Linked DNA regions of Homo sapiens: region 2 is linked to region 1. The links come from fine-mapping of genetic effects on gene expression. A gene starts in region 1. The other region holds a variant in brackets. All regions are shown on one strand. Distances are from middle to middle.

What was found.
Region 2: its variant is fine-mapped to the expression of TRAM1 in whole blood (TOPMed, PIP 0.94).

Annotation. Positions count from the first base shown.
Region 1 is chr8:70,607,198-70,610,111 of GRCh38, reverse strand. It overlaps TRAM1 (translocation associated membrane protein 1), which reads left to right and starts at 1,696. Exons shown (of 11, transcript NM_014294.6): 1 at 1,696-2,035. The coding sequence starts at 1,913. It overlaps LACTB2-AS1 (LACTB2 antisense RNA 1), which reads right to left and starts at 1,535. Exons shown (of 4, transcript NR_038881.1): 1 at 1,279-1,535. RefSeq lists silencers at 1,530-1,699, 1,780-1,829, 1,890-1,949, 2,000-2,179, 2,200-2,649.
Region 2 is chr8:70,983,022-70,985,935 of GRCh38, reverse strand. It overlaps a transcript of XKR9 not described here. Among named protein-coding and RNA genes, the nearest start is that of XKR9, 320 kb to the right of the region's middle. The variant C/T (reference allele first, on the strand shown) is at 1,352.

The DNA of each region.
Region 1 (2,914 bases):
GTTTTTTTCTTGAATATCTTTTACTCCAGGTTGGTTGAATCCACAGTGTATGCGGCACCCACAGATATGGAGAGGCAACTGTATAGTGTGTGTAGTCAATAATGCTGGTACAGAGATTATGGCCTGTAGATGCAGGGCTCCAGTCTGTTGGGGTAGGCAAGGACCAAATCAGAAAGGGCTATTTCATCATGCTAGCTTTCCATGAAGGGAAAGGGAACCCGCTGAAAAACTTTCTGCCAGTAGAAGCATCATTCTAGTATAAACGTTGAAAGGTGATCTGAAGGGAAATGAAACTAGTGATTGCCCAGAAGGAGGAAAAGAATAATCCCTGACTAAATTTATAAAGCCCTTACTCCCCGCTAAGCAGTTTCCTTCAATCATCTCATTTAATCACTAAAATGAGCAATAGTTATCCCCACTTTATAGATGATATCCACAGGGCTTGCTCCCTCACCTCCTGCAGGTCTTCAGGCAAGTATAAGTGCCTCGCACTTTCCTATTCCCCTTGCTTTATTTTTCTCCTGGTTGCTCAACTCAATTTAACATCTGTTTCGCTTTTGAAATCTTGTTTAAAGATTCTCTCCCACACTAGAATGATAAGTCCCTAGGAATAATTTAATTTGTATTTCAGTTCTGTATCCCCAGTGCCCAGGACACAGTCAACCCTCAGTAAGTACATAAATGAATACATTTTTAAAAATGAGGAAATCGGGTCCCATAGAGATTAAGTAACTTGTCCTTGATCGTACAAGTAATAAGTGGCAGAATTCTGATTTAACAACCCACATTCTTAAACCACTAAGTGGTTACACCAGAGTTGTAATATTGTAGGCAAGAGGCAAGTACCCTCGGACTGCGGTAGTGGGGAAGCGGGGTGATAGGTCTGCCTCGAATTGGTGATGACTGGATGTGGAAGGGCGCTGAAAGGGCTCAATCTAGCATGACTTTGGTTTCTACATTTGGCTTATGGGTAAACAGGAGAGCAATTCTTCAGGAAAAAGAATACAAAGGACTCCAGGTTTGGGCAAAACGATAAGAGGAGGACGTGTCTTAATCCACGATCCTTTTTAACTCTTTTACTATTTCCCTTAGATTACTAAAACATGTTGTTAATTTGAATATATGTGAAGCCAGTAAACCCAAACTGATCCCTTCGTCTTCAGTCTGAGGCCAGTGGGGGATAGGGGTGGGGATGGGGACGGGGATGGGGGTGGGGACGGAGAGGCAGACCAGAATAGGGTCAGCTCTTTTTTTTTTTTTAAGTTAGTCCAAACTTACCAAGAGTAGAAATAAGTCCCCAGCAGTGCTTAACTCTGAGGTAATTTTTAAGGCAGATGCTAAAACTGGAGAATACACCGTACCCTTGTGGAGTCAGGTAGTATTCGTAGTTTTAGATTATCCTGACGGTGTTAGTCACTTGTAGAAGTGACAATGTGCAACAGGCCACTGACACCCAATCCCTGGATGGCCAGGAGGGCAGGAGGGCACCCGGCCGCGGCCTCAGGCTGCTGAGCAGGCGCAGGAAGCTCGCGCCTCAAACGACTCCCAAACCCGGGCCCGGCGCGAAGCAGGGAAGCGCCGCTCACATTCCTGCACGCTCGCCCGGCCGCGGGCCAGCGGCCTCCGGTCCCCAGGTGGCGCTGTGGGCTCGCGGAGGCGGCCGCGGCACCAGGGAGCGTCGTCTCCCTGGTGCGCATGCTCGCCCCCGCTGCGGGCTAGCTGTTGTGTTTTTTTTTTTCCCCCGGGCGGCCCGGCGGCTGCGTACTGGCTGTGGGATGGGAAGTGAAGCCCCAGCGAGCGGCTGCAGCGGGGCCGTGAGGAGCAGCCAGCGGGAGGCGGCGGCGAGTCGGTGAGCAGCTGGGAAGAGCAGAACCGGGGCGGAGCACCTGCAGGCGCGGGCGGCGGCCCCACCATGGCGATTCGCAAGAAAAGCACCAAGAGCCCCCCAGTGCTGAGCCACGAATTCGTCCTGCAGAATCACGCGGACATCGTCTCCTGTGTGGCGATGGTCTTCCTGCTGGGGCTCATGTTTGAGGTGAGCCCGCCCCGAGTCCCAACCGCCTGCCCCGCCACCTCCAGCCCGGGCCCGGGCTCCAGATGCCAGCCCCGGCTTCTCCGCCCAGGACGCGGGGGGCTCGGGCCCGGGGTGGGTGCAGACCCCCAGTCCCTGAGGTGCAGGCCTTCCCTGCCCTGCCCCACGTCGGCGGCAGCTCCCCGGCGGCCGGCCCGGAGATGCAAAGTCCCGGTGGGCCTCATCGCGGCCCGCAGGGGGTGGGGACCGCCGCGTCGCCCCCTTCCTGACCCGCCGCCGCCCCCTCCCGCAGGCTGCGCGGCGCAGTTCCTGGTTCCCGCGAAGGGTTACGTGGCAGCCGGCGAGGGGCCTGCGGGCGGGGGCGGCCCCTGCGCTGCCGAGCTGGCTCGGGGCGGGTGGGCGGACTTGGGGGGACTGCCAGCCTCGGCCGCGGTGAGCGTCAGCCCCGCGAGGGCCGGGGAAGGCCGAGGCCCGGCCCCCGGGTCTGAGGAGTGCCGGCCTGGAGACCACAGGCCCCGAGTGACAGGGGAGCCCCCGGTAGCTCCGAGATTGGGGTGAGCGAGAAACCGGAGTCAGGCATCTGCTTTCGACTTGAAGGGCGGTGGCCGCCGGGCACCGGCGCAGTGGAGGCGCGCCAGATTGTTTTCATTTTTGTCTTTTAAACTGATATTATTACCAGTTAACGAACTTTTTGCCCTGACGCTTTAAAGAAACAAGGTCTGATGGATAAATCGAGGTTCTGAACAGCGGTGCCAAGGAATCGAGTAATTTTGTTTCTTGAAGTAGGAGAGGATGGGAATGTCAGGAGTGTGTAAATTCTCTTCCCACGTATCTAGTATTTTGATGACTTATTTAACAGCTGTTGAATGTGGATGATAAACT
Region 2 (2,914 bases), 380 kb before region 1:
CTATAAAATTAATATGAGTTAAACAAAATGTCTATTAGAAGAATTATAATTATGTTTATTAGAAGAATTATAGATTACTTCCATTATTTTTATCTCTTATCTTACATAATATTTGTGCGTGCTCTTTAAAGTAGAGTTTTCAGCAAAGGAATAAAATGATTGCCTAAAAAAAAAAATTTACCATATTTGTTCTTGTTTTTATTTTTAATTCTCTTCAGAAAAGCTATTTAGAAAGAAAAAATTGAGGGTAGGAGGGTGAAAAAGGAAGAAAGAAAAAGAGATAATTATTTTCCTCAGGTAGCATATGCCTTAGAAGTTATGATCACTTCTTGAAAATAGAATTATTCTCAGAAATGCCAGAAACATTGCTCAAATACATGTACAAAGATTGTCCATTTCAGCCTTGTTTATGATAATAAAAACTTAGATGCAATCTAAAGTGCATTGTGATGATGTCACCTAAGATTCACCAGCTTGTGCATGTGTCTTAATAGCAAAGATTGGAACCAACCCAAATGCCCATCAATGATAGACTGGATAAAGAAAATGTGGCACATATACACCATGGAATACTATGCAGCCATAACAAGGAATGAGTTCATGTCCTTTGCAGGGACATGAATGAGGCTGGAAACCATTATCCTCAGCAAATTAACACAGGAACAGAAAACTAAACACTGCATGTTCTCACTCATAAGTGGGAGCTAAACAATGAGAATACATGGACACAAGGAGGGGAACATCACATGCCAAATTTTAGAAATTCAGGGATTTCCTCCCACAACATATCAAACATATTAAAATGTTTTCATATTAAATATCATTTTGCTTTGTAAAAATCAAAGGGCTTTTTATAATTTTGTTTTTGGAAAATTATCTATAACTAACTATAAATAACTCATTTAATTTATTATTAGTTATACCTTCTTAGCAATCATTATGAATACTTGGGAAATCTTGAGAAGTGAGAAAAGTCTAACATATAAATTGTCTTTAAATGTAATAAGTTATTATGGATTCTAAATTTAGCAATTAATGAAGATGACATGATGTTACATTTTACAGACTTTCCATTAAACTTCCTAATAATTTCAGTTTTACAGTTTTATAATTCTTATTTTAAAGCCAATTAATATTTTTTTAGTTCTCAACATTTTCACAGGCTTAAGTCCTTGGTAATTCCCACATTGTACCTCAGGTACTTAATGAATAGAATGGCCCTACTTGCTATACCAGTGATTCTGTCAGGGGGCAAATGAGGTCAACACTAAGTACAGGATAATTTTTCTATAATTTATAGAGATTTTGTTTTACCTTTTTTCCCTTTGCCCATTTAAAACAAATAGCTAGG[C/T]CTTTGGGCATCTTCTCACTAGAGGCATTTGTGTTGCAGCATAGATAGCAGAAACTGCTTAGAGTCAAATATAGTTGCTGGCTTATGTTTTACTGAGTCTTTATTTCCCAGAACAACTTGGGACATCCAGCAAGGAAAGAAAGGAGAAAGCAAGTGGCTTCAAGAGAAGTAAGAGAAAGGGAGAGATTACACAGGATAGGGAAGAGAACAGAGATGATCAGAACCCACAAGATGCAGTAAGACTTCAGAGGTGATCATTGTGATGGCATCATGGGTCCAGGCCAGGGAAATTCCCCTGGGCCCCCCTTGACCTGCAGACAGCAGAATTGCCTACCTCTGAGGCAGTGGGTCTGAACAATTAGAATAGCAGTGGCAACAATGATGGACTGAAGATTACAGGCACTTCTCATTTCTCTAGGTACCAATCACATAAGCTTTCCAGACTCGTGAACACCCAGAAAAAGGAAAGACACCCCCATAGTGACTGAGTTTTAATGTCCTACTGCTAGCAACTCAAAAAATAAAGATAATTTCATATATATAATTTAAGGTGATGTTTCTTGCATACCAAAGTTTGTAGCGTAAGCTCCTCTTAAAGGTATCATTATTTTGTTTCCATCATGATTGTTATTCAGGCCCTGAATGGTTATTCTGGCCATAGCCATGTGGCCTAGTGAGCTAGAAATTACATTCGCTTCGACTTAAATAGCAAAAGTTCAATTGATTTATTAAACAGATATTTATAAAGCATTTATTTTATTTTTTATTTTATTTATTTATTTATTTATTTATTTATTTATTTTGAGATGAAGTCTTGCCCTTGTCCCCCAGGCCAGATTGCGATGGTGCGATCTTGGCTCACTGCAACCTCCACTTCCCGGGTTCAAGCGATTCTCCTGCCTCAGCCTCCTGAGTAGCTGGGATTACAGGCACCTGCCACCATGCCCAGCTAATTTTTGTATTTTTAGTAGAGACGAGGTTTCACCATGTTAGCCAGGCTGGTCTTGAACTCCTGACCTCAGATGATCCACCCGCCTCAGCCTCCCAAAGTGCTGGGATTACAGGCATTAGCCACTGTGCCCGGCCTGATAAAGCATCCACCATGGGCAAAACACTATGTGCTGATGCTGGGGAGAGCTTAATGAGCACAGTGCCAGCCTGCATGGAGTCTGCCAGGAAACACAGACATTTAATAAGAAATTATGGTAACAGGCTGCGTCAAGTGGTGATACAGGAAGTTCAGACGGTTATGAATGGAAAGGAGATCTAGCAGAGGAGTCCCAGAAGGTCCCCCAGATGACATGGCTAAGATCAAAAGAACAAATAGGAATAGTCAGGCAATGAGGAAGAACAAGGACTAGTCCAGAAAAGGGGAAAGAATGCTATTTACCAAGTCTTGAAGAAGTAATCACTGAAGTCCTTGTGGGTCATTTAACTCAATTGTGCATTCGAGATGAGAATTCTCTCATAGTTTACTGATACACTGTAATCTAAACTTTGCTATCTGACTCAAAGGGCCACCACTTCATATTTGAGAATTTAAACTAGAAGGGGTGACAGTAG